4 linked regions of the Homo sapiens genome follow. The protein of the gene in region 4 purifies or fractionates together with the protein of the main gene of each other region. This does not show direct contact. Each region holds a gene or a part of one and is shown on either strand. Other genes may lie near its edges. The genes, in order: TM2D3, VMA12, GPR89A and TSPAN17.

The links.
Region 1: the proteins of TSPAN17 (region 4) and TM2D3 purify together in Homo sapiens (affinity purification with mass spectrometry; 3 studies listed by BioGRID and IntAct, with this or other methods). This does not show direct contact.
Region 2: the proteins of TSPAN17 (region 4) and VMA12 purify together in Homo sapiens (affinity purification with mass spectrometry; 3 studies listed by BioGRID and IntAct, with this or other methods). This does not show direct contact.
Region 3: the proteins of TSPAN17 (region 4) and GPR89A purify together in Homo sapiens (affinity purification with mass spectrometry, with the first as the bait; 3 studies listed by BioGRID). This does not show direct contact.

The regions. Positions count from the first base shown.
Region 1 is NC_000015.10:101,642,350-101,649,382, reverse strand, and holds part of TM2D3 (TM2 domain-containing protein 3 isoform a precursor), read left to right. Parts: intron 1-2,483; coding exon 2,484-2,658; intron 2,659-4,220; coding exon 4,221-4,296; intron 4,297-6,738; coding exon 6,739-6,904; 3' UTR 6,905-7,033. UniProt on the Homo sapiens protein: Probable positive regulator of Notch signaling.
Region 2 is NC_000017.11:28,360,614-28,364,183, forward strand, and holds the end of VMA12 (vacuolar ATPase assembly protein VMA12), read left to right. Parts: intron 1-40; exon of another isoform or gene 41-121; coding exon 122-234; intron 235-543; coding exon 544-639; 3' UTR 640-3,070; downstream 3,071-3,570. UniProt on the Homo sapiens protein: Accessory component of the proton-transporting vacuolar (V)-ATPase protein pump involved in intracellular iron homeostasis.
Region 3 is NC_000001.11:145,603,380-145,611,007, forward strand, and holds the start of GPR89A (Golgi pH regulator A), read left to right. Parts: upstream 1-4,608; 5' UTR 4,609-4,754; coding exon 4,755-4,796; intron 4,797-5,238; exon of another isoform or gene 5,239-5,296; intron 5,297-7,628. UniProt on the Homo sapiens protein: Voltage-gated channel that enables the transfer of anions such as iodide, chloride, bromide and fluoride which may function in counter-ion conductance and participates in Golgi acidification.
Region 4 is NC_000005.10:176,643,084-176,650,513, forward strand, and holds the start of TSPAN17 (tetraspanin-17), read left to right. Parts: upstream 1-4,400; 5' UTR 4,401-4,532; coding exon 4,533-4,619; intron 4,620-7,430. Other genes in the region: EIF4E1B (eukaryotic translation initiation factor 4E type 1B), read left to right, coding at 1-183, 556-651, 1,293-1,356, 2,047-2,160, 2,294-2,433, 2,783-2,897. UniProt on the Homo sapiens protein: Part of TspanC8 subgroup, composed of 6 members that interact with the transmembrane metalloprotease ADAM10.

The sequences.
Region 1 (7,033 bases), on a different chromosome or scaffold from region 4:
GTTTAGAAGCCATAAAATAAAGAATTGATACATTTGACTCCTAAAAATTGGAGATTTCTGCATGACCTAAAAAAAAAAGCATAAAGGCAAAAGACATGGCAAACTAGGAAAAAGCGTTTCTAGAATATGTGACAAATAATACAGTAATATCAGTAATATATAAACACTTCCTAAAACCCACACGGAAAAGATGACAGTCTTGTAGAAAAACAGTGTTAGGACATGAGCAGATGGTTCATAGGAAAGGAAATACAAATAGATATATAACATGAAAAACATATAAGTTTTCTCATAGTATTTAATTAATACATTTTTAACCCTTAGATTGGCAATTTTTTTTTAATTTGATTAACTCTGAGTTTGTGAGAGTATAAGGGTCAGATGCTCATATCTTATTAATAGGTAATCAAATTGATCAACCTCTTGTAGGCGATTTGCCATATCTGTTAAACTTACACATGCACACAATCGTTGAGCTCGTAGTTGTACATGTAGGAATTTATGTTATAGATATCATTATACATGGATGCAGATAAGTGTGCTTATTTTTTAGCTGCATTGCTCATTAAAGCAAAAGATTCAAAAGAAGTGAAATGTCTAAGAACTGCTTAATTTATGGTACACGTGTAATAGAATAAACACCTTGTAGCCATTAAAAAGAACTAGGCAGCTCTAGAGGTAATGTACTGATAGATGTCCAAAATTAAGTGAAAGTATTGGGGAACATTAAATGTAGGTGACATAAATGTGCCTATGTGTAGAATCAGCTCTCTCTGGAAGCACAGAGCGTACTTGGCCTGGGGAGGGCAGGGGCTCCCGGCGGCTGGGCCAGACGAGGCCGGCTCACTTCTCACTCTCCTGTTGTGTCTTGACATGTGTTCCATGTACATGTGTCACCTACTTTTTAAAAAACCATTAAAAAAAGTGTGTTTTAAGCACATCACTGAAAATAGGCAGATGTAAACGTATTATTTTGCAGATCCAACTGTTTGCCTAAATCAAGTGATGCCTTACCCATATTTGAATGTTTTCCATAAAAAGTGGTTTTTGCATTGATAAGAAAATGAATAGTACTTGCTTCATCAGCGCATATGCCAAAGTTGGAACCATACAGAGAGAATTAGGATGGCTCTTCTGCAAAAATGACATGCAAATTTGTGAAATGTTAAAAAAAATAACAAACATGGGCCGGGCGTGGTGGCCTACACCTGTAATCCCAGCACTTTGGCAGGCCGAGGCAGGTGAATCACCTGAGGTCAGAGGTTGAGACCAGCCTGGCCAACATGGTGAAACCCCATCTGTACTAAAAATACAAAAATTAGCTGGGCGTGGTGGGGTGCGTCTCTAATCCCAGCTACTCAGGAGGCTGAGGCAGGAGAATCGCTTGAACCTGGGAGGCGGAGGTTGAAGTGAGCCGAGATTGCACCACCGCATTCCAGCCTGGGCGACAGAGCGAGACTCCATCTCAAAAAAAGAAAAAAAAATAATGTGTGTATGTGTATATATATGTATACATATATATACATGATGCTTCCAGAGATGTGTGACCACATAAAAATGATTTTGAAAAATATGCACTGCAATGTAATGTCAGGTAGAGTAAAAAGACTACAAAGTGCTTTCAGTATAATTCCATTTTAGTAAATTTATAAATATACATGTAGAAGAAACGGAAAGAAGATTAAAAGTGGTTAGCTCTGAACACCTATAGGTTTTTGTCTATAATCTTCAAATATGTAACATACAAAGAACATTCTACTTTTGTAAGCAGAATACAAAATAATGGCTTTTAAAATTGAAATGAAAAATTCTCTGGCCACCAGTGAACACTCACTGAGCCTCCACACACCATGTGGTGCTTCTGAGTTGGGCTGCCTCTGGATTAAACATGCCACATGCCCTGGTGGTAGGAGCAGCTGTAACAACCCTGAGTTGCCAGGCTGTGCAAGGTAGGGGATGTTAGGGAAGGTTGGCAACTCGGAAGCAAGGCGGTGTGTTAACCATTACAGAAGCATCAGGCTGGAGTTCAGGGACCTGGATTCCACTCCTCACTTGAAGCTCAGTGACCTTCAACAAATGCATTCATCAGTTCCTTCCAGCCATCCGTGATTGTGACTTTCTAAAATAAATTTTCCTCTTTTCTGCATTATAAAAGTATACGTTTACTATGAAAAATTTAGCTAAGCAAAAGTTATGAAATAATTATATCACCCTGAAATAACCTTTGCTATTTTGATGTGAATTTATCTAGTTTTTTCCCTTAAGTACATATGTTTGGGTGTGTAGTTTTATGATTATGAGGTCACATCATAGGCATTTGTTTTACATACATATTGTTTTGGTAACTGTTTTTCTGGCACTTACTCCTAGGTCCTAAATACAAGCATTTACGGAATTTTGTGCCATGTGACTGTGTAGTCTTACTGACATCTTAACAGACTACACCATTGTGATTGATGAGTTTTGTGTCATTTGCTACATAGGATCAAGACTTCAAATCCCAAAAGAACTTCATCATTAACATGACTTGCAGATTTTGCTGGCAGCTTCCTGAAACAGATTACGAGTGTACCAACTCCACCAGCTGCATGACGGTGTCCTGTCCTCGGCAGCGCTACCCTGCCAACTGCACGGTGCGGGACCACGTCCACTGCTTGGGTAGGTCAGAGTTCAAGGACATTTGTCAACAAAATGTTTTTCTCCAAGTTTATTGAAGGGACTTTAACCAGAAATTTGCGAGTCAAGTTACTTAATTAGAAACATTTATCAGCAGCTCTTTAGATGTGCCAAGCATCATCAATAAACTCAACGTACTAAAGTAAAGCATCCAGAAAATTGCAGTTCTTTTTAAATGTAATATTTGATAAAATAAGAAAAACATTTGAAGTATAAAGCATAATACACAGTAATTGACCTTTACCCAAAATAACAATGAAAGCAGCACCAATACCATTGCGGCCGCCTGAGTGCCTGAGTGCTTGCCTTCACCTGGTTGCCTTTCCTCCTCTTCCAAGGTAACCACCCTTTTGAATTTTTTATTTCACTTCCTTTTAAATTTTTTCTGTAGTTTTATTGTCTATATGTAATAAAATAATATTCAATAATGCATGTTTTAGAACCGTGTAAAATGATTTCAGGCTGTGTGCTCTTCTGGGACTTGCTTATTTCCTAAACATTGTGGCTCTAGGATTCATCCACGTGACTTCTCTTCTTTTTTTTACTTCTGTGTAATAATCTATTGTAAGATTGTATCACAGTTTATTCTCCAATATATTTGGTTAAGTGCTGTTTTCCGCTGTTGTGACTGTTCAAATTTCTTTGCCTGTCTCCCAATGGCACAGGTGCAAGAGCTTCTTCAGCATGTACTTTCCAGCGTGTGTCATTCTTTAAATGGCTGTATTGACTGGCATTCCCACCCGCGCTATGTAACTGTTCCTGATGAGCCATATTCTCTCCAAGAGTGGTTATTCTTAAATTTGGTCTTAAAGTTGTCTAGACTTCTTTTATATTTTGGATATTACCTGTGCTGTCCCTGAAACCCTCTCCCAGATTTTGATTTTTTTTTTTTTTGCATTATTGTATATTTTCATGAACAGAACTTTAAAAATATAATTACTGGAAGTTATTAGAGTTAGTCCTTTTTTGTGGTGGTTTTAAGAAATCTTTTTCTACCCCAGGTTAATAAAGACAATTTGCTACATTTTCTTTTGAAAGTTGTAAGTATAACATTTCACATTTAGGTTTAGAATCCACCTGGAATTGGTCCTGGTAGATGGTGTGAGGTAGATTCTACTTTAATTGTCCCCCCACATGGATGGCCAGTTGTCTCAACTCTTCCCTGTTGATCCGTGTGTGACCTCTGTCATAACACTCATACATGAAGTGTTTGTATATTTCTGGTTCTTGACTTTCTCTTCTTTTCCTATTGGGTGATTTTTATGCCTCAAGACTACACTGTCTTATATACTCGTAACTTCCCCGTAGGTCTTGATATGTGGGTGAGCATTTCATGTTCCTCACGTTGTAATCCTAACTTAGCTGATTTAAATATTACATCTATGTAGATAGATGGTAAGCGCTTTGTACTCTTCACTTCAACATGTATTACCGTAAAGAGAGTTGACTTTTCACATTTTAAATTTTGAGCCCATTTGTTACAATTAAGTCTTTCTGAGAGTATTTTTTATACCCTGTATTTTTCTTTCTTTTTTTTTTTTAAGGTAACCGTACTTTTCCCAAAATGCTATATTGCAATTGGACTGGAGGCTATAAGTGGTCTACGGCTCTGGCTCTAAGGTAAGCCTTGTTACTCGTAAGTGTAAAAGGCCGTTTGCATTTCTTTGGGATTGGTGGAATCTTCAGACATTGAGCTCAGTCCCCTTCATTCTTCACTCAGATCCTACCACGTGTGTTAGACTCTAGCAAACAGCTGGAAGAGTTTAGATGATCAGACCAGTACCTCCGTGGAGTTGACTGGCAGGCATGTTAGCTTTTCTCCCAAGATGCCTGCACATTACGTTTACCATTCTGAATGTACCACGAATCAGTAAAATGCTGTGGACTATCCAAAATAGGCAGTTTTATGATGTATATCTTTAATTTTAAGTAACTATTATAAAAAGTAATACATGATGAACACTGAAAACTGGAAAAATGAAAATGACAAAAACATTAAAAATTACCTATAATTTCATCAGCAGCAGATAATTATAGGCTTATATTTCTTACATAGAAATGTGCTGTTTGTTAAACTTCTCAACAGTACTTTAAGAAATTATAGCAGTTCTTCCCACCAAAGGGAAGGGCAGGTAAGACCCTGGTTAACTGATTAGTGAAAAGGTTACGCTGCCTACACTTGAAGTTTTGAGTTCGTGCCTGAGACCCTGAGGCCTGCAGCATTGCAGCCATAGGGCAGGATTTCTCAGCCTCATCACTGCTGACGTTCTGGGCTGAATGAGTTTTTGTCTTGGGGCTGTGCTGTGCATAGCAGGGTGTTGAGCAGCATCACTGGCCTCTACCTACTACTTGTCAGTAGCAAACCCCCCATCCCTTGCAGCTGTGACAGTGTGTCTCCAGATGTTGCCAGGTGTCCCCTAGGGGACAAAATTGCCCCTTGCTGAGAACCACTGCATTAGAATTTGAGCTGAGGAAAGAAGGATCTTGCCTGGCAGGAAAAGTGTAACTGAAAAGTAAAAGAGGGTGCCAGGATAGAAAATGAGACTAACAAAAATAAGATAGGGCGGGCGCGATGGCTCACACCTGTAATCCCAGCGCTTTGGGAGGCCGAGGCTGGCGGATTGCTTGAGGTCAGGAGTTCAAGACCAGCCTGGCCAACATGGTGAAACCCCATCTCTACCAAAAATACAAAAGCCTGCCATCGTGGTTCATGTCTGTGGTTCCAGCTGCGTGGTAGGCTGCAATGGGAAGATCACTTGAGCCCAGGAGGAGGAGGCTGCAGTGAGCTGGCATTGCACCACTGCACTCCAGCCTCAGTGACAGAGTGAGATTCTGTCTCAAAAAAAAAGATTAGTAACCATTGCTGACAATGGTTCAAATTAACAACTGGCTTTTTAAAAAAATAAATAAATGTTTGAAACTTGGAATAATTTTAATTTACAGAAAAGTTGCAAAGATAGTAGAGTTCTTATATACCCCTAACCTGGTTTCCCTACATTGTTAACCTCTTACAGTACTATACTGTAACATACTTTCAACAATTAAAACTTCTCAGCACTCAACATGGTTTTTTTTTTTTTTTGCTTTTTTTTTTTTTTTTTTTTTTTAACGGAGTCTCTCTCTGTCACCCAGGCTGGAGTGCAGTGGCTCAATCTCGGCTTACTGCAAGCTCCACCTCCCAGGTTCACGCCATTCTCCTGCCTCAGCCTCCCGAGCAGCTGGGACTACAGGCGCCCGCCACCACGCCTGGCTAATTTTTTGTATTTTTAATAGAGACAGGGTTTCACCGTGTTAGCCAGGATGGTCTGGATCTCCTGACCTTGTGATCCGCCTGCCTCAGCCTCCCAGAGTGCTGGGATGACAGGCGTGAGCCACCGCGCCCGGCAACATGGTTTCTTTTAAAATCATCACTGTAATGAGATGATGCCCAAGGTTTGCTTCAGGGTACTCTGGAGGGGAAAGAGGAGGGTTTTGATGAAACACAGCTGGCCAAGTGTTGATTATTGGAGCTGAGTCATGGGTACTGTTCTCTTTACTTTTTATTGTTAGGTGTTTAGAAATTTTCCATAATATAGTTTCAGTATTATTAGATCTTAGAATTTAAAAGATCCTTAAATCTTTTAAGGATTTATTCCTAACATTAAGATTTTAGAGATGAATGAAAAAATAGACTGAAAACATGGATGACTTGATCCAGGTCGTCCAGGTGGTGGTGAGCTCCTCCTGACTCCAGCCCTGACCCCGTGTTAGTGCACTTCCTGTTAGACTGGGTCTTTGCTTTATTTTGACTAAAAAGCAATGAGATTGATAACTTTAAAAAAAGAAAACATTGGTTTTTTAGTACAGCTAAAAATTGTATGTTTACTTTTGACATTTAAACTGTCTTCCTGCCCGTAATTATTTGGTGGTGTCAGTTTGTGAAATAGTCACTTGTGTTCCAGTTAAGGGCTACGATCAGGGGAAGCCCTTTCTCAAATCTGACATAATGTGGTGATTAAACCGTGACTGGCCACAGCTGGGGTGGAGGTGGTCTCATGGAATCCTGTCTGTTTGCCATCGCAGCATCACCCTCGGTGGGTTTGGAGCAGACCGTTTCTACCTGGGCCAGTGGCGGGAAGGCCTCGGCAAGCTCTTCAGCTTCGGTGGCCTGGGAATATGGACGCTGATAGACGTCCTGCTCATTGGAGTTGGCTATGTTGGACCAGCAGATGGCTCTTTGTACATTTAGCTGTGGTGTGTGCTTCAGAAAGGAGCAGGGCTTAGAAAAAGCCCTTTTGTCCGTAGGAGTTGATGTGGTGTGAGTGATATATTTCTATGTTTTTAATGTACAGCATCTGTACTTTGTTTGCCTTGATAA
Region 2 (3,570 bases), on a different chromosome or scaffold from region 4:
ATGGGTCATGACACTCAGGCTTGTTGTTTGACTGAAACCCAGTTGGTGGGGGAGCCATGAGATAAGAGCACCTCCTAGAGAATGTTGAACTAAAGGTGCCCTCTCTGGCTCCTCCCCAAAGTGAGATCATTGAAGGCTCTGGTCATCACCATCTTCAATTTCATTGTCACGGTGGTTGCTGCCTTCGTCTGCACTTACCTTGGAAGCCAATATATCTTCACAGAAATGGCCTCGGTGAGTAGGCACTGGGCAGGGCAGGGTGCCCCTGGTGGGGGTGTTAGTGGGTAAGGGAGGACGTATGTGAAAGTGCCTTGCACAGGTTAGGTATTGAACAGATATTTATGCCATTAATAAGGGGAGCATTAGAGCTTTCCAGCAGTCACGGGAGGTTAGGTAATAACCCCAGGAGAAGCCACATTCTCTTTTCTTCCCCTCCCCCAACTTAGAGGGTGGTTGGGGGGCTCTCCATCCTCATTAAAGTTGCTGGGGTACAGAGCTGGTTGTTGGCCTGCATCCCTTAAGCCTGGTTCTCCCCATCTCCAGCGGGTGCTAGCTGCATTGATCGTCGCCTCTGTGGTGGGTCTGGCCGAGCTGTATGTCATGGTGCGGGCAATGGAAGGCGAGCTGGGAGAACTGTAACTGGTGCTTCATCATCAAGTCTAGAGAAGACTTTGGGGGCTTCAGGCTCCAATTGGCAGTCACCGACTCAGTCAACCCATCAGACTTTTTGTATTCAGCTCCAGTTAGTCAGAAGACCAGCCCAGGCCAGCTGCTGTTTCTGTGGGGAGCCCTAATCTTCTGTGAATTTCCAAAGGGAGCATTGGAGGAGATTGAGATAACACATCTTTAAAACAGAAAGAACTGGTCTTGGTCTATCAGTACCTCTTCCTGAATCTGGTACCCATCTGCCTTCTCCAGTTCATTCTAAACACTGCTGGGACTAGGGTTTTTCCATCAGGAGCAAATGGAATCCAGGCCTTCCCAGAAGTAGACCATACTGCCTTGAACTTGTCCATATGTACAAACTGATCACCAGCTTTCTCCATACATTTTTAATGCAGACCTGTAATTGAGTTCAGAAGCCTCCAAGAAAACAGAAAGGATCCCCTTTCTCCAGTTTGTGCTGGAAGAGGAGCTGATCAGAGACATCAAATAAGAGAAAGATGGGTTGCTAGAGGATGGTAGAACTGGAAGCAAGGCAGCTACCTTTTTGCAAAAGGAAATGGTGTTAGGCCCCTTTTCCAGAAGATAAGACAGACTCATAGAGATTAAATGATCACTATGGTCCTTCTTCTGTTAAATGGAGCCAAAGACGCCTATGTTGTTCTGAAGTCTTGTAATGTTTAACTTCTGAGAACTTAGATTAGTGGTGTGATGATAGAGTCTGTATAACGCATTGAAAAGGGTATCAGGCTTAGTTATTTATCCAATAAATATTTATTGTATGCAGGGTATTCCTATTTTAACTCCTGTGACAACACAAAGCATAGCGATTTCCATAGTTCTAACTGTTCAGGGTCTGCTCCTCCTGGTACACTCTTTTTGGTTCACTGTATGTACTCCTGTTGTCTTTTTTTTTTTTTCCAAAGCACTTTTCTGTTTTCATAAATTATATACTCATTCACTCAGTGGACACTTCCTCTACAATGTTTGCCAGTTTCTGTTAGTTGGGAGAAGTGTCAGCTGTGAAAAGAAAAAGTAGGTGGCATTTTACAGTGTTTCCAGTAACCTGAGCTATATAAAATTTGTGTTAAAAAGCTACACTGGGCCAGGTGAGGTGGCTCACACCTGTAATCGTAGCATTTTGGGAGGCTGAGGCAGGCGGATCACTTGAGGTTGGGAGTTTAAGACCAGCATGGCCAATATAGCGAAACCCCATCTTTACTAAAAATACAAAAAAATTAGCCAGGCGTGGTGGTACATGCCTGTAATCCCAGCACTTTGGGAGACCAAGGTGGGAGGATGCTTGAGTTCAGGAGTTTGAGACCAGCCTGGGCAACATGGCAAAAGCCCATCTCTACAAAAAAACGCAGAAATTAGCTGACATGGTAGCGCACGCCTGTAGTCCCAGCTACTCAGGAGGCTAAGGTGGGAGGATCACTTGAGCCTGGGAGGCAGAGGTTGCAGTAAGCTGAGTAAGCCAAGATCATGCTATTGCACTCTAGCCTGGATGACAGAGTGAGACCTTGTCTCAATGAAAAAGCAGGGGGCACTGGGAGGGGAGAACCAAATGCCCTATCCTCCAGTTCTCAGCATATAGAAGGGAGCTCTCTCATCTGCTAGCCACTCCTGCCTCACTGTGCCATGCTTTCTGTAATGCACTCTGGGTCCAGGGACTGCTTGGCAGGAGGTGGGAAGAACAAGAAGTTTAGGGCCTTCCCAGTTTCTTAGGGCCTGTCTGGAGAGGGAACTAGCGTTTACTGAGTTTTTACGATGTGTTACACACCATGTAAAGCCCTTTACCTACATTATTTCTTATACCCCAAACAGAGAGCAAATAAGTATCCCCATTTTTTAGTCACATAGAGTTCCAGAGTTGCCACAGTTACATCGCAAAGTCAGGATTTGAATCCAGTGCAGACCGCAAACACCATGGTTTTCTCTCCAAAGCAGAGCAGCTCCAGAGGTGGAGGTGACTGGAATGTCCTAGATTCAGTGGGACCAGGAGCTGGGGGTGCTAGCAGAGGCTCTCATCTCCCCAGGGTCTTGTCAGTCAGAGTCCTAAACCCTTCAATTAACTATCCCTCTAATCCCAGCTGAAGCCTGGGTAATACCTCCCACCAAGAGGTATCTGTGTGGAACCTGGCCCTATTTAGGGATTAGGTGATGGAGATAAATTTCCATGGCAAACGGCCCTCGTCCCCGTTCGTTTGCAGAGCACAACAATCCAGATTAAGGTACAGAGTTTGGGTTTTATTTGGAGATTAGTTGGTATTACAGGTGATGGTGATACCAAAACCCAATGCTGCTATACCTGCCTCCATCCCAGATCTGTCAGGTTGTCTCCACAGCCCCACATCAGAGGGCATCCAATCTGATCTTTGTGAAAATTAAATCAACATAAGCCCCAGCTTCCTATCTTTGCTTCATTACTTTAATGCCACTCCCTCTTCACATCCGTAGTTCTGATTAATTTGTCCAGGTGGTCGATGGTCAAGAGAGGGGGCCCTGACCCATAAAGAAGTTGGCTCTCCAGCAGTCTAGATGAGGAGCAGCACTCTCCTCTCCTACCTCACTTAGCAGTTAGCAAGGTAATGGCCTGGAGAGACCTCAGGAGACAGGAGCCTGCCCCTTCAGAAGGAGGAGGCCATCAGCTGGTGAGAACTGGGGACCAGGCCTGGCAAGAGTGGAGGAAAACATGACCCTCATCTCATCCTTCTGAAGGTACCACCTGCCACAACAATGAGCATATGCCCCAAAGGGGTCAGGGTGTGGGGTGGCAGGAGCCAGGCCCCAGTCTGCTTAGGACCTGCATCTAGGCTGGCCTGGAGGCCAGTGGAAGGGAGGGATGCCTGAGCTAAACTCCTTTCCCGTAGGGAATCCCTTTGCATAAAAAGTGGGGCCAGGGAA
Region 3 (7,628 bases), on a different chromosome or scaffold from region 4:
CGTTAACCAAGAATAAGAATGAATATCCCAGACTTTGGAAATATGCCAGTGTTGTACTCCTTTGCAACTGTCTTAACATTACGGTGGCAAATCTCAATCCAGTGGTAAAGATGGGGACTTCTTTAAAATAAGCAAATGTCCCTGCTGGTAGTTATCCCAAGAAGAGGTCAGTCCTGGAGCAAGAAGTGGTGGGGCAGTAGGGAGAGCTTTCTGCTCTGCCTGAGCACAGACGGCAGGGGACCAGAAGTTTGGAACAGTTCATACAATAAGAATATGAACATCCTTTACTTTGAACTTCAACTAATATATTCCATTTTAAATTTAATCTCTACATATTCTTCCCCTTTGTTCACAAAATATATGGATCAAATTCATTCTGCATGATAATTATATCAACAGAGAATCCCAAAATTAGTTTTAATAAATGGAAAAAGTTGGTGTTATATATTTCAAATAATGCCACTGAATCTTTCCAAATTTGAGAGCTCTACGATCATCAGTCTTTTCAGTATAATTTGAATAATTGACAACCAAAACTTTTAAATATACATTTATAAATATTAATAAATAAATATACATTGAAACTAATGATGAAGGAAAACTGAATGTAAACTCATAATAATAATAATAATGGGTAAAAATTGTTGCATACTTACTATAAAGTGCTTATTTTCCTGAGGGCTTTATGTATATTACTTAATCTTCATAATAACCTTATGAGATAAGATACTATTACTATCTCTATTTTTTAGATGAGGAAACTGAAGTACAGAGAGTTTAGTAACTTGCATAAAACCACACAACTATTTAATCTTCTTTCCTCAGGAACACGACCTCAAGAACAACCAAGCACTTGATACAGAGCTGACTCTAACTCATATGAACCAGTCAAGGCCCTGGACAAGGCGGTGCATACCAAGTCAGCACCAAGGTCAATATATCCAAAATGAGATTGTATAAGAGGAAAGGACTGGAATGCACCTCCAAGAAGGTCTGGAAAAGTGAGAACCAACTAGGGAAGAGGTTCAAAGTAGACTCAAGGAAGATGAAGGGGAATTCTTGAGCCAAAGCGCAAGTGGTTGGAAAAGATCTTTAGGCTTCCTGAGGCTATAGAGTGAGCATATCTAGAGAAAGGGTGCGGGAGTGGAAAAAAGCAAAGAGCAAAGCTAGCACCACTCTGGCCCTCAGTCCCCTTTCTCTAGACAAATCGGAGCTGGCATTTTCCTAGTGTGAAGGTGCTAACTCACTCTAGGAAAGTTTTGAGATGGGGAGCAGAGTCTCACAACCAGTCCCCAGTCAGTATGCATAAGAATCTCCTGGGATGCCGTTACAAATGCAGATTCCTTCTTAAAAAAAAATTGAACTCACAAAAGCAGAGAGTAGAGTGGTGATTACCAGGGGCTGGTGGGGGATAGTCGGGTGGGGTTGGAGAGATGTTGGTCAAAGGATACAAAATTTCAGTTAGATAAGAGGAATAAGTTCAAGAGATCTATTGTACAATATGGTGACTGTAACTAATAAAAATGTATTGCATTTTTGAAAATCTCTGAGAGTAGATTTTAAGTATTCTCACCACAAAAATAAATATCTGAAGTAATATATATGCTAATTACCTTGCTTTAGCCATTCCACAATGTATACATATTTCAAGATATCATTTTATGCATGATAAATATATATAATTTTTATTTATTAATTAATTGACTCCTAGATTCCTCCTGGGAGTCACTTTCAGAAATCCCAAGTCCACTGGTCTACATTAGGACTTATGAATCTACATTTTAAATAAGCTCCCCAAGTCATGAGAGAACCACACTTTGAGAAAACTGCACTTATATATTTTCTAGGTATCAAGTATAGATACTGTCCATGGGACCATTGGGAAATAAACACTTTTCCTCTGAATACTTGGGGTTTCCTGTCCAGCTTACACTGGTGACTTAGTGGGGCACACAGGGGAGTTCAGAGACTCAGTGAACCTGGCACAGTGGGCAAAACTACAAGATAGGTTGTCTATCCATGAAGGGAGACAGCGGGAGTAGGATGCCACGGAATTGGTGATACCATATGTCTCAAACGATCCCAGACTTACAACTGCATGTGAATCTACAACTATGTCATAATAAGTAAAAAGTTTCAAAAGAAAATCCCTAACAGAGATCATCCAGCCACTGGCATGGGCAGGTGCTATGTAAGTGCACGGAGAAGAAGTACTAGGGTGTTTCCCAGGGATCTAATGTTAGTGTCAACTCCTGGGCCCAGTCCTTTGCATTAATTTGGAGGAAGGGGATGAAGTAGTTAGCTGTCAGTATGTGGATGGTGCTGGGAAGTGTGAGAGTACCGTAGGTATGAACACTGCAGTTGCTATGAAAAAGGACAGTAAAGTGGTGTGAGCAAACACTCATCCAAAGGACACAGACTGATCATCTTGTCAGTTGACTCTTTGTAGCACATCTATGGGACTGGCTGTCAATCTCTGGATGAGTGGCAAACAATGGCTACTAGTTATGAACATGACATATTTTGAAAAGCTCCCTTGGAAAAAGCACAAACTGGGGACTCAGAGCCCAGATGGTGTGACTGTCCATGGAGGCAGAACCAAAAGATCCCACTATTCTAAGAGGATGGCAGCAGCTAGAGTGGATCGGGAGAATATTACCAGCAGTAGAGATGGGAGGACAAGCCATTTTAGTGTCAGAGTCCACCACCAGCAGTACAGACTTGCTTTGAAAGGAGAGTCAATTGGATACTAAATGCAGTGCGAAGGTTTCTAAAGACATTCCTCAATCAAAATCAGGGGATAAAGCAGTCGCTTGAATCACCTAGGCCTGTCCTTTACCTGGACACAAGTGGTACAGTAGGGAGCATTCTGAATAGTGTCACCCAAAGCTTTGCATAGGCCTTAGGCCAGCAGGTATTGCACACCTTTCTCTGCTATTCCTCGTTACTGATATTCTGATCCCCACTGTGCACCCCAGTAAGCCACCAAGGTAAACTGCTTGCCTTGATAGTCTCTTTCAGCACTCTGCACTCTACACACTCTTGAATGTCAGTTAGGTGCTGTTATGTGGGAATCTACCTGCTTACCTAATAGATATAGCCTGGACACAAAGTTCTCTGGTTTATGACACTCCCATTGTACAGCTGCCTCCATAGCTCCTTGAAATTCTGGATCAGGGATTGGACATCTGACAGGTAGTTTTGACTGCTTGGTATCACAGAGTTCAATCCAACAAAAGGAAGACATGTTCCCTTGTGTATAATGAATCTGCAGATCACTTATTCAAACTATAGTAGTCTGAACTCAGATGCTGGATGTCAGGTCCCCTCAGGATTGTCTTCCTGCGTCTTGACTGCAGCCACTCCTACACAGGGTGATTTCCTGGGCTGGAGCCAGTTTGCAGGACTATGAGACTATATAGACTACAAAGCCTAGCTAGGCCCCAGGTCGGCGGCAGAGTAAGCCCCACAGCAATGCGTTAAGCCTTCATGAAATGAGTGTTGAATGAATGAGGTAGTGATTCAGTGTATATTTGATCCACTGCAATAGGTGGGAAGGGGGCAGAGGCAGCTACTTCCTAAAATAACCCTTCTTCAGACTCTTAAAGAACTGATCCTTGTTTTGAATTAAAATCTATCTTCATTTAACTTCCAGTCCTTTGCCCTACAGATAATTCGTAGCGCCACATCAGTTCTACCCATTCTTTCACATGAAGACAGATGTCATGTTCTGAGTCATCTTTCTTCGCCTCCTTCCAGCAGCCCTTATCTGGTGGCTCACATTTGAGCGAGCTCCAATATGTCTCTGTAGAATCTCTCTCTTCTTTTTTCTTTTCTTTTTTTTTTTTTTTGAGATGGAGTTTCGCTCTTGTTGCCCAGGCTGGAGTGCAATGGCGCGATCTCGGCTCACCGCAACCTCCCCTCCCGGGTTCAAGCGATTCTCCTGCCTCAGCCTCCCTAGTAGTTGGGATTACAGGCATGCACCACCACGCCCGGCTAATTTTGTATTTTTAGTAGAGACAGGGTTTCTCCATGCTTGTCAGGCTGGTTTTGAACTTGCGACCTCAGGTGATCCGCCCGCCTTGGTCTCCCCAGGTGCTGGGATTACAGGCGTGAGCCGGCCCGGCCTGTAAAATCTCTTCAAAGTGTGGTACATGGAGTGCAGTACTCCACCTGTGGCCTGACTGATATGCAGTACAATATTATCACTAAATTGCTACAGACAGTGTGCTTTTCATTGTTGTCACAGAAATGTATTTGGTTAGTTATATTTGTTCATATCTCATCTGACTTTCCAGTCTTCCCTCACTTTGTACAGTCATATTTGCCGAGTCAAGTAAAAGTTATAACATTTAGGACACAATGCCCGACTTACTATAATTACCATTATTATCTTAGGATCATTACAAAACAGAATTACCACTTAGCTCTCAGGCCCTACCTCCTTCAGCCTCAGAAACGTTAACGCTACCTTGCATTGCTGCTTTTAGCACCGCCCCTAATAAGCCCCGCCCCTGGGGCCTCCGCGGCGGGAGCCTAGCGTCCGCCCCACCCACCCCGAGCCCGAGGCGGGGCTGTGGATGTAGACGCTGATTGGCTGACTGGGGCGCAGCTTGATGGCGTCGGGCTGGAGAGCCGCAGTCCCGGCTGCAGCACCTGGGAGAAGGCAGACCGTGTGAGGGGGCCTGTGGCCCCAGCGTGCTGTGGCCTCGGGGAGTGGGAAGTGGAGGCAGGAGCCTTCCTTACACTTCGCCATGAGTTTCCTCATCGACTCCAGCATCATGATTACCTCCCAGGTGAGTCACCGCCTCCCGCCCCGACACCCGTCCGCCTCCCTTTACCGAATCGCCCTCTCCGGTCCTCCGCGGTGCGGGCTGGTCCGGGGTCTCGCTCCTCTCTTACGCGTCCTGCGCTAGTCACTCTGGCACCCAGAGAGGGTGTGCGATTTGCTGCGGCCGGTTCCCTCAGCCCCGGCTGTCAGGAGACTGGCCTGCGGCCGTCCGCGTCCCCACCCGGCATCCATCCCCGGAATTTCGGTCCACTTTTGGAAGCGGTCCGCCGACCTCCAGGCTAAGAGCCGGCGCCGCCAGCTAAGGCGGCGGTTCTAGGAGCTCCTCGAAGCTTCCGGGCTGCGCCAACTGATCCTGGACTGGGGAAGCCTGTGTGGTTCTGGGCGCGCGGTGTGCGACGCGCCAATACTGGATACTGAGGACACGTCAGTGCAGGCTTTGCTGTTAGATGTCAAATCCTGAATCCGGGTGTGGAGAAATTTGCTGCTTCAAAGTATCAGTATAAGGTAATACCTGTGCTTGAAAGTATAAGGTTTCGTTTTTGCACTGACACCTCGTCCTTTATCCTCTGCTTAGTTACCCACCTTTTCCGGATGTTTTTCTGACCCTCATTTCTTCTCCATTGGCCACCTTCATTTGTTTGTACAGTCAACAAACATTTATCGACCATTATATAAAGCTCTGAGCGTAAAAACATGTAAGACACTGTCTCTGCTCAATAGAAGTTTCGTCTAGTTAGCCTCTTGCTTTTACCATGTAATCTATTGTTAATTATTGTTTCTTCCTAGCATTCATCATAGCACTGGCATCATTTATGTCTGTGTTTCTGATTTTGTTTTTTGAGATCCTGCCTTGTTCATAGCTGTATCCCCACTTCCAAGTGCAGGCATTCAATAAATAATTGTTGGCCAATATTTGTGAAGCTCAGACTGCCTGTTGACCTTCTTCCCCCCATCTTTCCAATAAAGATTTTGTGTGTGTGTGGTTGTTTTTACTTGTTCTTTCTCTCAAACGGCAAATAACAGAAGCAGTTACCTTTGGGGGCTTAAAGTGAACTAAATTTGTGTTCTTTGATTCCGTTTTTGTATTGCTTCATCCTAATACTCGTCTCCGTAGAGCGGAGCATTGTCCTTTTCTCTTCAAAAACTTGTTTACAATATTTAAGAAAATAAGAAAGAAGGAAAAGCCATCCATAATCCTACCACTCTAATGCAATAGTTTTTTCATTTTTAAAATTTACCACCTTTTCTATAGTTTTCATAAGTATTGTTTTTATTGGCTGCATAATATTCAAATGTATTAATGTAAAAAAACCTAGACATGTAACTCTTCTGCTTAAAACCTTTCTAAGACTACCCAGTGCCCTTGGTGACAACTCAGGGTTATTTTTAGCCTTAGTACCAATTTAAGAAAAATAACAATATTTAATTAGCTTTTCTTTTCATTTAGAATAAAGATAAGAATGTCAGTAGAAAATTGGCTTTGCATTGCAGCCTCTACGATTTTTAGCATGGATATAATTGATACGTTGAACCGAGGAAGTGGCTTTCTAATTTTGTATGCCTTATAATCATAGACTTTCACTTCACACATGCATCCACATGCAGTAATTAATTGTTAAACCTGGTTTTTACAAATGTGGAAGAAAGACCCAAAGATTCCTTTGCATGGAATGTTCTCTGTTCAGATATTTATGTGGCTACTTTATCATCCTTTCGGTATTAATAAAAATGTCGCTTTAGGAAGGTCTTACCTGACACCCTGCCCACAACCAAAGTAGCTTTCCATTTCGGCTGCCTTCTTCCTCATTTCCATGTTTTATTTTCTTCTTGGCATTTATTACTATGGTTCATTTGTATATTCATGTGTTTGTTATCTGTCCATGAGGTCCAAGATACTGTCTGTCTTGTTCTCTCCTGTATTCACCAGCATCTAGATCAGTTGCGGGCACATAGTAGAGTTGTAGTGAATATTTGTTTAATAAAAAGCACCTCTCTAGAGAGGTGTGGTTACCTTGGAAACACCACCATTGCCCCCTGCGCCCCTCCCTGCTCATTTTTTCTGTTTTGTATTAACTGAAAGGTTTATTTGAAATGAAATCTGAAATCAGAGGTCACGTATTCAATCTTGCTCACCACGGCACAGGATGAAGTTCAAACTCCTTTACATGGCTTTTCAGGTCCCTTATTGATGGGACCCTGGCTCTTCTCTCTTCAGCTGTGGCTCCAATTTATTCTTTAGACTTCCTGAACTTCTTTTAGTTCCCTAACCTGGCGATGCTATGGTGCCTCCAGATTTCCACACAGTGTGTTTTCTCTTTCTGGGCCTTTTCCTCATATCCCTCCCCTTCTTTAAGCCTTCAGATCTCAAGTTGAACATCCAAGAAGCTTCCCCTAGACTGGACTAGATGTCCCTATACCTACTGCCATAGTACCCTTCACCTACTTCCCCTGTAACAACACTACCACATTGTTTGGTAATTACTTGTTTATCTCCTCCATAGATTATAAACTCCTTGAGAGTAGCATTCATGCTCTCATTTGCCATTCTATCCCTTGGACCTGGCACATATTAGGCACTAATAAATATTTGTTAAATGATTAAAAGGGTGAATAAATGATCCAAGAAAGGTGTCTTTTATAGTTAATTCTTTAATAACTGTCCTGCTGATGGCCATCTTTTTTTTTTAACAGTAGCTAATTTTCAACCCAGAAGTCACTTTTTTAAAAGCAACTGTTAACTAACTCATGTTTTGAGCCCTCTATACCGTCATAAGACTTATCAGTTCCAGAGTACACTCTTAAGTCCTAAGGTCAAGACTCTGTACAATTCTGAAAG
Region 4 (7,430 bases):
GAGTGAAGCTGAGGGTGGAATCCGAGAGTGGGAGGAGGAGGAGAAGGAGGAGGAGGCAGCAGAGAGGACGCCCACAGGAGAAAAGTCTCCAAACTCTCCCAGGACTTTGCTGTCTCTGAGAGGGAAGGCCCGGACGGGGGGCCCCATGGAAGTCAAGCTGGAGCTGCACCCCTTGCAGAACAGGTAGGCAGGAGCCTGCGAGTGGAACACAGCCCCTTGCTTTCAGGCCAGCCTCTGTGCTGGCAGCGTGGCCTTGGGCAACCCCGCCTCTCTTGGCCCTAGCTCTTCATCCGTGGGAGGCCAGGGCTGACCTAAGCCTTGGGCCCTGTTGGCCCTTCCAGCCCTAACCCCGCAGAGACTGTGGGTCAAACACCCCCACTCCTCCCCTGCCCTTCAGGACAACTGATTTCATTCACCTGAGAGGGGAATGCTGTGCCCCAAATCTCATCTCCCAGTTCGCCCTTGAAGGGGAGGGTCCTCCCTGTCAGTCCAGGTGCCCCGGGGGTGGACTTGGCTCTCTGCTTCCTCCTGGCTGCCTCCCCCTTCCCCTACCAGGTGGGCTCTGTGGTTCTTCAAGAATGACCGCAGCCGGGCCTGGCAGGACAACCTGCACCTGGTCACCAAGGTGGACACTGTGGAGGACTTCTGGGCGTGAGTGTCTGTCCCCAGTGGGGCTAGAGTTGGGGGGCTCTGAGCTCTGGGCTCCCTCTCTCCGGGTTGAGCCAGCCCTCCCTAGGGCCTTTCAGCCTTTGTGAGGGCTGGGGCTTTGTGGGTTCTGCCCAGGGGGTATAGGGCACAACCACCCCCCACCCCACCACCTTCTTTGGGCTCAGGGAGAGAGCCTGGGGAGCAGGAGAAGCAGGAAGCTGACCTTGACTCGGCCACTCCAGGGCTTTGTGACCTGGGCAAGTTCCTTCCCCTCTCTGAACCTGTCTCAGCTGCAAAGGGAGGACTCGGCTGCCTCAGTGTCCGGGTGCTCACGGGAGTGGCTCTGAAAAGGGCTACACAAGCCCTAGGGAGGGTGAGAAGGCCTCGGCTGTAGCTGGAGGGGGGAGCACCAGGGGGTCTAAAACCCTCCCCAGGGGTTGGCTCAGCCTTCACTGGGAAGGCTCTGTGGAAAAGGTGGGTCTTGAGAGTTTGGATAAACGGGAGTGGAATCCCAGGTGGCAGGCCAGTGTAAGCAAAGGCTTGGAGGCCATGGGGTCGGATGAGGAGTTGGGAGGGCTGAACCCAGTTGGAACCAGGCCCTAAAAAGCCTTGACTTTTGGCATGGGGTCGGGGGCTCTGTCCAGGCTATACAGTCACATCCAGCTGGCCAGCAAGCTCTCCTCTGGCTGTGACTACGCCCTCTTCAAGGTAAGCTCTGCTCTCCTCTTTCCCTCCCGCAAAGGGACAAGGGGTTGATCCCTCCCGGACTCCACTGCGTTAATCCCTCAGAGGGGTGGGGGTGGGGAGCTACGGGCCACCTCTCAGCAGAGTTGTGGTTTCTGACTGGAGGAAATGCTCTACAGGAGCCCGGACAGAGTAGGTCAGGCCCAAGCCGCACCTTGGAGGACCTTAAGAGGCGGGAAGAGGGAGAGGGAGAGATTTCTGACCTGGCTCCTTAACTAGGGAAGGGCATCAGAATTGCTTGAGGACACTCATTGATGCCACACCCATCCCTGGAGGGCTGACATTGTGTTTAGAGATCTCCCCAGTGACTTCTGCCCTGCCTGGGAACCATGCAGCCAAGCCTGGGATGTCCCCCTTGCCTGCATTGGGGTCTGCCCCTGAGGCTTCCTTAATCCACCCCGATTTGAATGCTTGTCTTAAGGAACTCAGTAAAAGAGACATGCACATATACAAGGCTATACAAGGTGACCAGTGCTGTCTGTCGGGGGGAGCTGAGTGGCTGGGGGTGGAACCTGCTTGCACTGAGGGAAGGGAGGATAAGAGAATCTGGCCTACTTAGGGCCTCAGCAGAGAGCGGATAAGGCCGGGATGGTGGGTGGGTCCCCATTTCCCTTTGAACACAGGGAGGCAGTTGACTTGCCATCTGCCTTGCAGGATGGCATCCAGCCCATGTGGGAGGACAGCAGGAATAAACGGGGTGGCCGCTGGCTGGTCAGCCTGGCCAAGCAGCAGCGCCACATTGAGCTGGACCGGCTGTGGCTGGAGACGGTGAGTTGGAGGAGGAGGGTCCTCAGGGGAAGAGACGGGCTGTGTGGGTCTCATGGTGGCAGTGGTCTCAAGGATGGCAGGCCAGTCCCTATGTCCCAGCCGGTGATCTCACAACCCCCTACTTCGGGTCCAGCTGCTGTGTCTGATCGGGGAGAGCTTTGAGGAACACAGCAGAGAGGTATGTGGGGCCGTCGTCAACATCCGCACCAAGGGGGACAAGATCGCTGTGTGGACGAGGGAGGCGGAAAACCAGGCGGGCGTGCTGCACGTTGGGTGAGGAGGGTCTCTGGCACAGGGTGGGGACTTGGGTCTCTGCTAGAGGGAAGGTGGGTGGAGGGGGCTTGGCCTGCATGGGAGACCTCTGAAAGTCTCCATAGCCTCCCTCCCTTCTGCCTTGCCCACCTGTATGGAAGGTCTGGCGTTCAGATTTCTAACTTTCTCTTACGGCAGTGCAGCTCTCCTTTTGCATTAAGGGGGTCATATTTTGGGTTTCCACATGGGTAAGACACAACAGGTGTGGCTGTGGCCAGAATGAGGGTAGGAGTCTGGTGGCCTAAGTTATCTCTAGGACCCTCTGATGACTACCTGTGTCTCTTTTCCTCTGTGTCCCCCGCACCTGCAGGCGTGTATACAAAGAGCGCCTGGGCCTCTCCCCAAAGACCATCATTGGGTACCAGGCCCATGCAGACACAGCCACCAAGAGCAACTCCCTAGCCAAGAACAAGTTTGTGGTGTGAGGGGGGCCTTGGCACCCCTCCTATGTAATGGGACAGCCGCCACTGAGCCTCATTACTTTGGGGGATGGGGCGGGACTGGGGATCAGACAGCCTAGTTCTTACCTGTCCTCAAGTGAACAGGAATGCAAACACTCTTTAACATGAGTTGGGGCCTGAGCCTTAGGGGCTAGATGGGGGTAGTGGTGGCAGTCTGAGGACCTAGCTTGTCCTGGGGCCACAGGACAGCAGCAGGGTGGAAAAAACTCCTGAGGGTGGGGTGAGTCATGGCGGGGAAGGAGGGCTCTATGGTAGGCGGAGAAACCCATAGTCCAGCGTTTACTGTTTCCACCCAGGAAGGAGGTGAGGTGGCCTGAGAGACAGACTCTTCCATGGGTGGTGGGCTCAAGGGCACAGACATTCTGGAGGGTGAACGCCATCATTTGTACAGAGGGATACGTGGGTTGCTGAGGACTGAGAGAGCCTTGCAAGGCCGCTCCCCTTCTCCCCAGCTGTGACCAGGGCTGTCTGGGCCTTGCCTGCCTCAGGGCCAGACTGAAGTGGAGGTGGAGGGATGCTGGGCTAGGCCTCACCAAGGTTCTGGTAGAAGTGGTGGAAGTGGATAAACTTGATAATAAAAGCTTAAGCATCTTTCTGTTCCTGTTTTAAATAAATACTTCTGAACAAAGTTGGAATTATTTTTAAGAGGGCTTCAAACTGGAGTAAGATTCAGGTTCCCCCAAACTTTGATCTGCCTCTGTCCTGTCTTACAGGGGCTCATGTGAGATCACTGGGTACCAAGGAGCCTGACCGGGACCCTGGCCAGTATGGAGGACAGGGGGTGTGGCTGGGGAAACTCAGCCACCAAGGGGGCTTGAGCCAGGTTCCGGGGGGCATATGCCCCTGGCAGGGCGCAGCCGGCGTGGCACCAAGGCCCAGGCCCTCGTTTGGCCTGAGTTTGAGTCAGGATAAGTAGAGCTGGATTTCCGCTGGGTGAAGGTGAGCCTGATGCGACTCCACAATGACAAAACGTCCTGCACGTGTTAAAAACTCAATCCGGACCAGCTTCCCCATTCGCCTGCCAGAGCAGCAGTTAACCTTCCCCTGGGATGGGCTCCAACAGCAGGCTGGGGATTGGGATGGCGCTGGTACCCAGCAGGGGAAGCAAGGCTTCTACACCCCGGCGGCCTCCGGCGCCATCAGCCGGCGTCCCGGGCGGGTCTGCAGGACGCTGGGAAACGCGGCGGCGGCCTGCGCGGGGGCGGGGCCTGGCCGAAGGCGGGGCTGCGAGGAGGTCCGAATCAGGCTGTGGGGGCGGAGCTCGGGAAGCGGAGCCAGGTCCAGAGGCGGGGCTCAGGCGGGACTGAGTTGATCTATGGGGGCGGAGCCAGGTCAGGAGGCGGGACTCCAAAGGGACTGAGGGCTGTGGGGGCGGGGCCCGGTCCAGAGGCGGGGACAGCAGGGCTCCGGGCAAGGAGGTCTGGATGCTGAGGGCGGTCCCTGAGGGGCGGGCGGGGCCCGACCGGCGCTCTGTGTGGCCGAGGCCATGAAGCCGCAGCCGCCCGGCTAGGCCCCGGGCGGCTCTAGCCCAGGGCGGCCCGCGGGGCGCTGGGCCTGGCTCCCGGCTCCGGTTTCCGGGCCGGCGGGTGGCCGCTCACCATGCCCGGCAAGCACCAGCATTTCCAGGAACCTGAGGTCGGCTGCTGCGGGAAATACTTCCTGTTTGGCTTCAACATTGTCTTCTGGGTGAGCGCGGGGTCTGCGCCTTGCCCTGTGCTGGGGGGTGGTGGGAGAGGGAGATTCAGTCTTTTGCTGGGGGAGACCACTCCCTGCCCCAAGAGTTTGGAGCTCGGGACCATCCCCCCACTTCTGCCACACCCACGCCCACTTCCAGGACCACCCGAGGTAGCTACAGAGGCCCGGATTGCTGGGGGCGGGTCCTAGCGACAGCGTGGGGTCGGGGTTGGGGTAGGGAGTCTCCCTAAATAATCCCGAGGCCTGGTGGAGAAAGGGAAGGTGTTTCCTTGAAGACCCCAGGGGCGTGCTAGGTGCAGGTTGCCCCCTCTCGCCCAGCCCTCCTTCCTACCCTGGGATGTGGGATGCGTGCCAAGCCCCACCCCTGGTTTAGCCGGTAAGGAGATTCTGGCGTGAAGGGAGCCGCCAGGCCCCTTCCCCGGCCTCCTTTCCCTTCCAGTAGTACCTGGGTCAGGTGCCTCACCTTAGGCTCCTGCAGAGTGGGGTGGGTCACAGTCCTCTGCCCACCCCAGTCCCGCACAAGGAGGCTGACCTGCCAGGAGGGGCAGGGAGGGACAATGGCGAGTCCTTGGCGGCTGGGAGAGGATCTCCCCGGTTGAGAGCCTGGGAGCTGGCCTTGGGGAACAGAATTCAACATTCCACAGCTGACAAGCTGAGGCTCCTGGGCGGGTCTGCCCCTACCGGGGAAGGGAGCTACTAGTGCCCCTCCCAGGGTGGCATCTGTCCCCCTGGGCCCTGCCAGGTCATTTTTCCCATCTCTCCAAAGCCGTGGCCCTCTGCAGTCTCTGCTCCTGAGGCCTTGGGTCAAGATGCCAGGCCTTTTCCCTTGTGTTCAGCAAGACTCAGTGGCACTGCCCCCCACCCACGTGTCACCGAGCTCACTGGTGTGGTGGGTGTCCTTGCACTGCAGCGCTAGGCTCTTGAGGGTGTGGGCAGTGTGTGGGAGCACTGGCAAAGAAGTCAGAAGGCCTGGCTGTAGCAGGCCTGGCTGGGACACCTTGGGCAAGTCATCTCTCCTCTCCGGGCCTCAGCTTGCCTGCCTGGGAGACGACGATAAAGAATCTGCCTGTGAGGGCTGTTAGGCAGATACAATGAGTTCAATTTGTTGTATTCTCACAACTGCCTTATTATCTGCATTTTACAGATGGGGAAACTGAAGGAATAGACACAGAGAAATTAAGTCACTTACCTAGGGTCACACAGCCAGAAAGTACAGAGCCAAGGTGACGGCTTAGTGGGCAGAGGGTGGAGGTGAGGCAGAGCTGTGAGCAGAAGTAACCTCAAATACCGAGGGGGAGCAGGCGTGAGAGACCCGGGTTTGTTGCTGGGGCGGAGCGTGGGGTGTTATGTTAAGGTGGCATGGAGAAGCGAGGGCTTCCAGTGATGGGTCTGATCTGGCTTCTGTTCTGGAGACCGCTTGCCTGGCTGCTGTGTGGAGGGTGGATGAGGGGCAGGGCCTGGAGGTTTGGAATGGGGGCAGGGCTGGGGCAAAGCTGGGATGGTGAGGTGGGAAAGGTGAGGGAGGTTGCTGGGAAAGTCAAGAGGCTGAATTGACTGGGCTGGGTCACTTGGGGGCTGGAGGGAGGATTTCAGATTTGGGTTAAGGTGGCCTAAGGGAGGCTGCTTGTGGAACAGGCACAGAGGTTTTCATGTTTAATGTCAGGCAGACCCTGGTGTTGTTCTGTTTGGAAACTGCTTGTGGTTTCCTTTTTTCTTTTTTCTTTTTTTTTTTTGAGACAGAGTTTTGCTCTTGTTGCCCAGGCTGGAGTGCAATGGCACGATCTCGGTTCACTGCAACCTCCGTCTCCCAGGTTCAAGCGATTCTCCTGCCTCAGCCTCCCAAGTAGCTGGGACTATAGGTGTGTGCCACCACGCCTGGCTAATTTTGTATTTTTACTAGAGATGGGGTTTCTTCATGTTGGTCAGGCTGGTCTCGAACTCCTGACCTCAGGTGATCCACCTGCCTTGGCCTCCCAAAGTGCTGGGATTACAGGCGTGAGCCACCACGCCCGGCCATCCTGCTCGTGGTTTCTTACTGCTCCTAGAGTACTGTCGGCCTCCAGGGCCCCGCGGGGCCGGGCTGTCCGCCCTTCAGTTTGTTCCTTGAACTAGACGTGGTCTTGTGTCAGGGCCTCTGCCTGTGCCCTACCCTCCTCCTGGAACAGGCTTTTCCCTCTTGCTCTTTTCATCATTCAAACCTCAGCTGAAATGCCCCCACCCTCCCTTCTGCCCTCTCTAAAGCTGGCGTCCAACCCCAGCATCCCCCATCTCGTCGCCCCGCTCGATATTTGTTAAGGGGTCTGTTTGCATCTGAGGTTTCCTTGTCTGCTCACTGACTGTCCATCTCCCCTGCTGGAGTGTAAGCTCCGTGAGGGTCGAGTCCGTCCTATTCACCAGCGAATCCCCGGCATGGCGGCGATCAGTGCCGGTGGGTCGTGGAGGTGTTTGCTGCAGGCGGGTGGACGTAGGGGTGTGGGACCAGCATGAGGTCTGGGTGGGGATCGGGAGATGCCAGCGTCATGATGGGATGGAAGACGAGCGTGAGGAGGAAGAACGGCAGAAGGCTGAGGCTGGAGGCCGTGGGACCAGCCACAGGTGGTCCCTCCAGGAACACAGCCCTCCAGGAACTCCTGCTGGAGGCTGAGAGCTCACTTCCCAGCTGTTTTCCCAAAGTGCTTTAATTGTATTTCCTTGGCTCTGATTGGCTGCCTCTGGACCAATCCCCGGGGCAGGTGAAGGCGGAGCATCCTGGGAAGGAGCTCGGGGAGGAATGGGGTTGAGTTAACTGAGGTGGGGTTCAGG